Linked DNA regions of Homo sapiens: region 1 is linked to region 2. The links come from fine-mapping of genetic effects on plasma protein levels. A gene starts in region 2. The other region holds a variant in brackets. All regions are shown on one strand. Distances are between the middles of the regions.

Region 1 (5,388 bases), 11 kb after region 2:
CGGTTATCAGATCAACTGTCCCAACATTGAAGTGCATGTGTTCAAGTAACCCGTATTTACTTAATAATGGCCCCAAAGCACAAGAGCAATGGTGCTGTAATATATTATTATAATTGTTCTATTTGATTATTGCTGTTGTTAATCTCCTACTGTGCCTAATTTATAAACTGAACTTTATTATAGGAGTGGATGTATAGGGAAAAAACATAGTATATTTAAGGCTCAGTACTATCCATGGTTTCAGGCATCCACTGTAGGTCTTGGAATGTATCCCCCGCTGATAAGAGCAAACTACCCCATCACCTCCATTTCCTAAACTAGGAGCATGAGTCACAGTAACTGTGTCAGTAATCTAACTAATCTCACAAAACCAGAAAGTGGTGTAGATTGGGATGGGACCTGGGCTGTTGTTCTCAAAACTCACACTCAGCACCTACACTGTCGTGCATATGCTCTTTGAGGTCTGAGACTTTATTCCTGCATTCATTCAGCCATTGATTTACAAACTCTAAGGGGATGATATAAGAAGCGATCAAGGAAGGTTTACAGAAAAAAAAAAAACTTTACTGCATCATCAGTATGAATAGATATTTTCCAGGCTGACTCAGGGCTAGAGGACTTTCAAGGGAGAGACGACAGTGAGGACAAAGACCCAAAAGCACAAAAGAATGTTAGGCATTTTAAGGTCAAGGTGTTCGGCATGACCAGCACAGAGTCCTTGGGAAACATAACAGGAGGCTGGAGGTGTAAGCACGGGTCCAGTCATAAGGTTATCTGTATTGTTGTTGTTACTATTTATGTTGTTGATTGCCTTACTAAGTTTGAACTGAATATAAACTGCTTTCCCATTTTCATTGCATATTTGAATCACCTGAAGGAGCTCTTAGAAAACACTAATACCCAGGCCCACACCAGCCAGGTAGTACAGAAATTTAGAGGTGGAGCCTGGGCCTTGCTCTGGTTTAAAAGCCCTACAGGTGATACAAATTCACAGTAGGATCAAGAGCTAATTGCCTACAACACATTGTTGGGTATTTTTAAATATTAATAACATTTAATTTATTGTTATGTATGTGAATAACATTTATTGACGTGTCTTAAGAGGAAATGTACTATGACCAGTTTTTCTTTTTTCTTAATATCCCACAAATGCTTGTGGACAACTTGGTTAGCTTAAGAACCTCCAAGAAAAGATGAAAACAGGAACTGTCCATCCCTGGGAAACTACAGAGCAGCATGTTCAAGTCCGACCCACCTTAGTTCCTGTCTTGCTTACCCCAATGCCCTCCTAACTTTTACTACCTCACAATTCTGCCCCTTCAATCAAGCTTACATTCTGCTGCCAGGAGAGTTTCTGTTTAATGAACAATTAGACTCCCCATTGTCAATCAAATAATGTCAGACACCTCCTCATCGTTGTCAATCAAATGAGGTCAGACATCTCATCATAAAATTCAAGCATCTACTAGTCTAGCCCAACTTCCTTCTCCAGCCTGTTTTTCCACAGTTGCCTCCAATGTTCCCCATACATCAGTTCTCCTAAACCAGGAGGAATCCCCTGAGGAACTTTGCTAAAATGCAGATACTGTCATCATTGCCAGGTCATGTCCTGGCCATTCCTACCTAACACCTTTGTTCATGTTGTTCCTCTTGAGTGCTCTATCCTACTCTCCAAGGCCTAACTCAAATACCACCTTCTCCAGGAAGCTTTTTTTTTTTTAGCTTCATTAAATGTTTGTGAGCTCCTCTCCTCTTTTGAAAGAGGCATCCCACTAGATGCATCCCTTAGGGCATTCCTCTGGCAACTCCTTTTACAGTAGTTTGTTAATATTTATTGAGTGTCTCCTATATGACAGGTATTTCCCAGCACTGGGATACAGAAATGAATGTGGCAAAGTCTGCCTTCATTGGAACTATTATAGCTTGTGTTATTAAGCAGTTCCAACCTCCCTGCCCAAACTAGTTTATAAGCTTCTGGATAACAAGAAAGATAACTGAGTTATCTGAGGTGCTTCCTAGGTAGTCAATGTTCAATTAATACTGAATTAGTTACATATATAGTTATAGATAAGGCTTCCCCCTTATTTGAAGTGTCTCATATTCTCTCTCTGTCTCTCTTTATCTCTCATCACCCCCCCACCCCACCCTGCCTCATTAGGCCCTCTTTGTATCATCAGACTATTATAATGAAAATGACTGGAATTGCCAACAAACTCTGAATACAGTGCTCACGGAAATTTCTCAAGGAGCATTCAGCAATCCAAACGCTGCAGCCCAGGTCTTACCTGCCCTGATGGGAAAGACCTTCTTG[G/T]ATATTAACAAAGACTCTTCTTGCGTCTCTGCTTCAGGTATAAGCATTAAAGAGAGCACACTGTTTCGCTTTTCACCATAGCACCCAAAGCATGTGAGATTCAGGTGTCCTTTGAAACCAAAAGTGACCAGATAAACCTCCAAAACATAACAGTTGCCAGAGAGAATTCAGTTTTCCTCATGTTACCAGGGTTTACAGTCACCTGAGGATTTGTTCTTAACTGAGTGCTAGATGTCCCTCTTAGTTCAAACATTAACAAGGCAGACCTGATTAAATAATGTCTATCTCCAAAGGTGTATTTTCTGACTGTTGGATATAGAAGGATCTGAGCATCATTCTCATCCTAAATAAAGTATGGAGTATTGGTACCGTGACTCTGACTTTGCACAGTGAGTGATCCCTTAGGGAAATGAGACATCTGTGTGGAAGTGATATGCCAGTATTCAAAAATTGTAGCATGCATTACTTATTCAAAAAATGACCTTGCAACCAGGTAGAAGGAAAGGAGACATTGTCTTATATCTCTGTCCATTCCTGGTTCAGCCACTCACAGGTTTAGGAAACTTGGACAAAATGTTTAACCTCTAAGCTTCAGTTTTCTAATGTAAAAGTTGGGAACAAGGACAGTACCTAACATAGGTTTTTGTAAAGATTGAATGAGACAATCCATGTAAAATGATTAGTATAGTGCCTGGCAATTCATATGTTTTCAATAAACGTTAAGCAATAAAAAGGAGAAAAGACAAGCATTATTGTATGCTGTACCAAGGCAAAAAAAGAAAAAAAAAATCAGGATCCTCTGTGAGAAACAGAAGTTAGAGCAACTGAATTGCTTAAACAGCTGGGAGTTGAGCCAAGTGCCAACATTCACAAGCTGGTGAGTTTGGGTCTTAGTTTCTGCTTTAGTTATATGAGAAATTTGCCCCTTGAGTGATGATAATTGCTCCTTATAGTAAATCCGTGTCTGCATAAAGGCAAGGAGTCCTTGGATAGGGGTTGAGTAGGTCTGCAAACTCTAATATCATTTTTATTTTTCTGAATATTGCTCTGGGCTTTTCTGTCTCTGCCAGGTAACTTCAACATCTCCGCTGATGAGCCTATAACTGTGACACCTCCTGACTCACAATCATATATCTCCGTCAATTACTCTGTGAGAATCAATGAAACATATTTCACCAATGTCACTGTGCTAAATGGTTCTGTCTTCCTCAGTGTGATGGAGAAAGCCCAGAAAATGAATGATACTATATTTGGGTAGGTCTGTACCTAACCTAAGGTTAAGATGTTTGCTGTCATTTCTAAAGATGCAGTAAGAATGCATTTGCACCTAAATACAAAGTATATTTAAAATGCTTCTGGGTCAGTAGCTTTGCTGTCCATCTACATCTCACAGCAGGAGTTTAAAATAGGAGGTGAGGTATTTCATCTTCTTGCACATAATAGGTAGTAAATTAATGTTCGCTAAATAAATTAATGAATCTCAGGGCTCTCTCTTATTTCAGTAAAATTCTTGCAATAAATGTAACTTCTAAAGTCAAACATTTGAGATCTAGAACAGTGGTTCTTAACTCTTTTTGAATCACGGACCCCTTTGAAAATCAAGTGAATGTAATGAATGTTCATCCAGGAAAAAAATGAACATACACACAAAAATTGGCATTTGTTTATTTATTTATTTTACAGACAGCATCTTACTATGTTGCACAGGCTGGTCTTGAATTCCTGGGCTCAAGAGATCTGCCCACCTCAGCCTCCCAAAGTGCTGGGATTACAGGCATGAGCCACTGCCAAATTTAGCATTTCAACTGAGGGTTTCACAGATACCCTGAAGCTTCTCCCTGCCCTCGCTTTCAGAAAACTCATAGATCCCCAAACTAAAGTAACTGGTCAAGGAGGTCAAGTATTAAAATTAAAATAATGGCTTTGCCTCTGAAAAGTATGACTTATTTGGCTCCTTAACTCTAGTTGACAGTTATTTATCATATCTAACAACACAGTGTAGGATGCTATAAAGAAAATCAGAATAATAATATAATATACATTATAAAGGCTACCCTCAAGGGCTTTAAGGGAGGTAGAAAAATGACTACGGAATATAAAACAGATACTGACCTGTCACTTTTTAATAAACACAATATGAAATATCAAATTATCCTTTCCTGTTCCTCTTTTCTAAGGGAAAACTCAGTAACTTATGGTGTCTCTAGCACATGAGGATCATATGTTCTTCTACTGAATCAGTATCTTTAGCAGTTACTATCTTGGGGTGGAAGGTTGAAGCTGTTATCTGAAACCTATCTACCATGGCAGGTGGGGAGAGCAGAAACCATGAGCATCATTTCTCTAATTTAGCATGGAGTGTGGAGTGCCTGCATTAGAATCAGCTGGAGTGTTTATAAAGCATGCAGATTCCTGATCCCCAGCTCATATCTAAAAATAAAAATATCTATGGATAGGGCCAGGAAATCTGCATTTTTATAATGTCATCAAGTGATTCTCAGGTACATTAAAGTTTGAGAAATGCCTATTGTTGGTTTCCTTTGACAATTCTAAGTTCCAGTAACCTACTTGCTGTCACCCACAGTTTCACAATGGAGGAGCGCTCATGGGGGCCCTATATCACCTGTATTCAGGGCCTATGTGCCAACAATAATGACAGAACCTACTGGGAACTTCTGAGTGGAGGCGAACCACTGAGCCAAGGTAAGGGAGAGACATGCCAAAAAGACCCATGCTAAAAATGCCCAAATGGAGAGGGGTGTGAGCCTCTGTGGGGATTGGGCCAAGGGGTTAGTAGAGATGACATCCATTATTTGGTGATTTAGTGGCCAAATCATTTGACCCAGTTCTCTTTCTTCTTCCTTTTCAGGAGCTGGTAGTTACGTTGTCCGCAATGGAGAAAACTTGGAGGTTCGCTGGAGCAAATACTAATAAGCCCAAACTTTCCTCAGCTGCATAAAATCCATTTGCAGTGGAGTTCCATGTTTATTGTCCTTATGCCTTCTTCTTCATTTATCCCAGTACGAGCAGGAGAGTTAATAACCTCCCCTTCTCTCTCTACATGTTCAATAAAAGTT
Region 2 (5,388 bases):
GTGTGTGTGTATATATATATTTATATTTATATAATAGAATAGTATTCAGCCATAAAAAAGAAGGAAATAGTGCCCTTTGAGACAGCATGGATGAACCTGAAGAATATCATGCTAAATGAAATAAGTCACAGACAAATACTATGATCTCATTTATATGTAGATTCTAAAAATTATCAAATACATGGAAACAGAGAGTAGAATGGTGGTTTCCACATAAGTTTTATATAAATATGTGAGAGAGAGAAAGAGATTTATTCCAAGGAGTTGATTCATGCCCTTATGGAGGCTAAGAAGTCCCACAGTCTACTGTCTGCATGCAGTAAAAGTCAGTGGAGTGATTCAGGCCAAACTGAAAGCCCAAGAACCAGGGGAGCCGATGGTGTAAATCTCAGTTTGAGGGCTGGAGAAGATAAGATGTCCTAGCTCAAACAGGCTGGCAGGAAGCAAAAAAAGGGTGAATTCCCCCTTCCTTCACCATTTTATTCTATTCAGGGTCTCAATAGATTGATTGATGCACACCTACATTGGAGACGGCATTCTACTTTCCAGAGTCCACCAATTAAAATGCTAATCCTATCTGGAAACACCCTCACAGATACATCGAGAAATAGTGTTTAATCTGGGCACTCAGGTGCCAGTCAAGTTGACACAGAAAATTAACCATCACAGAGGTACAATGCAAATAGTGGCTCATTAAGTCATGACATCCTTAGCTAGGCTGACAGTATTCTCTAATAGTTCTCAGAAGAACTGTGATAGGCAACACTTCTCACATGTAGCAACTGCCCTGGCAGGGCAGAAATTCACATTTGATGTATAGCTCTCTGGTTTTCCTCCTTGGTTAGGAAACTCTCATGGAATCTATCTTAGGAGAAAAATCATAGTTTGGAAACCACTATGCCAAAGATCCCCTCATGTGCTGGGTTCTCCAATACTGCCTGCTTCAATTTCAGACTTACAACTTTTACTTCCGTTTTTAAATTTTTTTATTTCAATTTTTGTAGGTACATAGTAGGTGTATATATTTATGGGGCTCATGAAATGTTTTGATACAGGCATGCAATGCGTAATAATCACATCATAGAGAAGGGGGTATTCATCCTGTCAAGCATTTATCCTTTACGTTACAAACAATCCAGTTATACTATTAGTTATTTAAAATGTACAATTAAATTATTATTGACTATAGTCACCCTGTTATGCTACCAATAGTAGGTCTTATTCATTCTTTCCAATATTTTGTACCCATTAACCCTCCGCATCTCCTTCCCACCACTAGCCTTCCCAGCCCCCAGTAACCATCTTTTCATTCTCTATCTCTATGAATTCAATTGTTTTGATTTTTAGATCCCACAAATAAGTGAGAACATGCAATGTATGTCTTTCTGTGCCTGGCTTATTTCACTTAACATAATTATCTCCAGTTCCATCCATTTTGTCACAACTGACAGGATTTCATTCTTTTATATGGCTGAATAGTACTCCATTGTGTATATGTACATTTGCTGTGTTCATTTATCTGTTGATAGACACTTAGCTTGCTTCCAAATCTTGGTTATTGTAAACAGTGCTGCAACAAACATGGGAGTGCAGATATCTCTTCAATATACTGGTCTTCTTTCTTTTGGGTATATAGCCAGCAGTGGGATTGCTGGATCATATGGTAGCTCTATGTTTAGTTTTTTGAGGAAGCTCCAAACTGTTCTCCATAGTGATTGTACTAATTTACATTCCCACCAACAGTGTACAAGGCTTCCCTTTTCTCTACATCCGTGCCAGCATTTGTTATTGCCTGTGTTTTGAATAAAGCCATTTTTAGCTGAGATGAGAGGATATCTCATTGTAGCTTTGATTTCCATTTATCTGATGATCAATGATGTTAAGCACCTTTTCAAGCACTTTTTCATATGCCTGCTTCCCATTTGGATGTCTTCTTTTACTTCCATTTTTATATGTTGTATGTGTTTGCATGATCAAATCTACTTTATCAGGAAACATAAAACATAAAGTGAAACGGAAAAAAAAGGAAAGATTATAGGAAACAGTCATTTGCCTAATATATCTTCACTGCACGGAAGGCAAATAATAGATATGAAACCCGAAGGTTTAGGACAGGAGACAAAGGAAAGTTATTGCCTTATTCTCCCTAACCACATCCTTCAAGTCTTCTTCCTTATTTATTACATCACATGGACAAATACACTTGACCACACCTCCTGACATTGCTCAATATTTGCTTGAGTGAAAAGAGGCTGAGGCAACCTGAAGGAGGAGCTCTCATTACCTTCTGCCCATCACTTAATAAATAGCCAGCCAATTCATCAACATTCTGGTACACTGTTGGAGAGATGAGACAGTCACACCAGCTGCCCCTAGTGGGGCTCTTACTGTTTTCTTTTATTCCAAGCCAACTATGCGAGATTTGTGGTGAGTAAACTTTGAGCTAAAATTACTCTAGAGTGATAGTCTACTGAAAACTGTTGACAAGAGACTCTATGTAGAGTTACCTGAGAAAAGATCCCATTCCAGTTTCGTATGTGGTTGGACTCCATGAATGATGAAAAGGGTGGCAGGAGATGGTGAGGAAAGTCTCACAATGCATGTTGTTGTAAGAGGAATTATAGATTGTGTATTCACTTGCCTAACTGCTCTTTCTATGCTCAGATCCTCTCTAGCACAGCATCCCTACCAAGTAACTCCCTATTCATGTGACTTTTCAATGACAGAAAATTTATGCTCCCAGAAACTTTTCTAGATCATGGAAAGTTATCTTTTGGTCTTGATATGCAATCTTTTTTCCCTGAAATTCAATGCATGATTTTTGGGTTAACCCCTTGTAACTACATAGAAAAAAATAATAATCTCTTTCAAATAGTGATGACTGCTGTCTTGTCATGAGTGAGTTTAGATGTTCCAAGTTGCATGTCCACCTTCCTTCAACTCTTTCCCAGGACACATGGGATAAAGTTCCATCATCTCTTGCATGGGTGTTGACCCCAGAGATTGTGTGGTTCTGTAAAAGAACTTTAAAGTAAGAGAAGGGAAAACTAAATTCAGGTTTAGTTTGATCCCTTAGTTATTGAATGACCCAACATTTCTGAATTTCTTTAGCTTCATTCATAAATAAAGGATAATGAGGGGAGACTATTGAAGCAAATTATCTCATGAAGTCTGGTGCAGTTCTCAAGTGCATGAATTCTCTTTTGTGAGACTTTACTCTGAAATTGAGCTTCAAACCAGTCCAAAGATTACTAGGTGGTACTATCTGTGCTCTCTAACCAGTAAGAAGAGAACACCACAGAAGACAGGCTTGTATACATACAGGCTAAAGCATAGACTCTTCTGACTCTGATTTTTCTTCTTGGCTTGACATTTCCCCTGTTGGATCCTAAGAATAGGGAATGGCTATGTAGGTTTTAGCTTTCAATTCATTTTAAATAATAATGATAATAATTAAATTTATCTTTGAGACTCAAGGAAGCTGATTTGAGTTGTTGATCAGGAACTAAAAAGTCTGTTTCAGGGCCAGAAAATCTGCTGAGCTGGATGGTTCCACAAAATCTCAGAGAACTGACTCACAATTGTTCCATTGTGTCTGCAACAAACCATGACCTTTCTACAATCACTCTATTCAGATCTTCTTGACTCATTCTTTTAAAGTAAAGAAAACTGGGCAAGAGAAATTACATTTCCTTGATTCTCAAGTATAGTGATAAAAACTCCAGTTGAGCTGGAAATAATAGTATGTGCAGCATTTTACAGTTTATTCGGTGGTTTCTTGTCCAATATCTGTAAGGTAAGTGTTAACAGCCACAATTTTTAAATGAGAAAACTAAGAGTAAAACAAGTTACATAAGTTATTATCCACAGTCATAAGTTAAGGAGCACAAAATGTGGCCAAAATCTGAATCCAAACCTCATGTTCTTCTCACTCTCCCACTAATCCATTAGATAATCTGGAGATATGTAGGATTTGGGGCTACTCCTCAAGATTATGGAAAAATACATTGACAAAGTGTCCTGTGTTTAAATAAATAGTAAATCTTTTTATTCTCCTCTATTTCCTTGGGAGCTATGGATTTTCCTACTTCCACAGTATAATGTGACTTCCCTCCATCTCTGGAATTGGGGCATATTGTAGGCTAAAACTGGAGAGTTTTTTACAGGCTGCATAATGCTAAATAATGATCTCGATGCCCAGCCAGCTGGGTAATCAGACAATGAAGTTTTGGGGTCAATCACCAGTATAACACAGAATTATTACCTGCATTTTCTCAACATTAACCCAGTTGATTTAGAAGATGGAGAAGGAAAGAACTGAATCCAGGAAGTAGAAAGTCCTGCTTACTGAGAGTCAGAAGACATGTAGTCTAGTTTCAGCTCAGCCTCCAATTATGGAAGTTTCTTTAAGGACAATCTATCTAAGCTTCATATACAAAATTAGGGAATGATGCTAGATTTCCCAGGCAGGAGTCTGCCAGTACACAATGATAAGTCTGCACCAGTTGTTAAAATATTAAAACATTTTCATGTTGGTTGTTAAAGGAGTAATGTCTGGCATGGGGGTGGGTTCAAGACCCACCTTTGTATTATTCCACCAACACAGTCTGCAGCCACTGGATTGGTCTAGGTCTGTGCCATATCTGTTACTAAATATTTTTATATAACCCCTGCTGCAAGTCTTACTATTTTCTGAGTATGTGTTTCTTATTTCCTTCCTTCTCTGCCACAGAGGTAAGTGAAGAAAACTACATCCGCCTAAAACCTCTGTTGAATACAATGATCCAGTCAAACTATAACAGGGGAACCAGCGCTGTCAATGTTGTGTTGTCCCTCAAACTTGTTGGAATCCAGATCCAAACCCTGATGCAAAAGATGATCCAACAAATCAAATACAATGTGAAAAGCAGATGTAAGTTGCTGTATATTCTGGAAGATTTAGAAAAAAATCTACCTATTTAAAGATTATCTGCAACTAATCCTAAAAAATTATGCATCCAAAGTATCCCTGCTACATCCCTTCTAATGGTACCAAACTTGAGGTAACAGAAACATGCCCAAAATACAATCCCATGCCATTCACCCTAGAGCTAGGTCTTGCTTCTTTTGGTCTTAAAAACCACTTTTCTTCAAGAAGCCACAAACAAAAGCTATGGATTTTTATCCATTAATGCTGTTATATAAGCTAGCTTAGTTCACAACCACATGGGAATACAGATCATAACTAAGAAAGCTGGTGATGGAAAGGCAACCATGGAACAACCCAGATTTGAACTAGGTATGGGTGGGCCTTGAACCAGTCATGTTAATACTGAGCCTCAGTTTTCTAATTAGTATAAGGGGAAAAGAAGCCACTCTTACCTACCTCATAATATTATTATAAGAATT

What was found. PIP is the posterior inclusion probability: the model's chance that the variant is causal. Protein levels are from the aptamer-based SomaScan assay of Sun 2018.
Region 1: its variant is fine-mapped to the plasma level of the TCN1 protein (Sun 2018, PIP 0.95). The variant lies in the coding sequence of TCN1. If it changes the protein, the assay may bind it differently, which can mimic a change of level.

The regions. Positions count from the first base shown.
Region 1 is chr11:59,852,829-59,858,216 of GRCh38, reverse strand. TCN1 (transcobalamin 1) reads left to right here. Exons shown (of 9, transcript NM_001062.4): 6 at 2,159-2,348; 7 at 3,382-3,565; 8 at 4,896-5,014; 9 at 5,181-5,388. The coding sequence ends at 5,242. Among named protein-coding and RNA genes, the nearest start is that of CBLIF, 10 kb to the right of the region's middle. The variant G/T (reference allele first, on the strand shown) is at 2,312.
Region 2 is chr11:59,863,431-59,868,818 of GRCh38, reverse strand. It overlaps TCN1 (transcobalamin 1), which reads left to right and starts at 2,332. Exons shown (of 9, transcript NM_001062.4): 1 at 2,332-2,427; 2 at 4,733-4,912. The coding sequence starts at 2,349.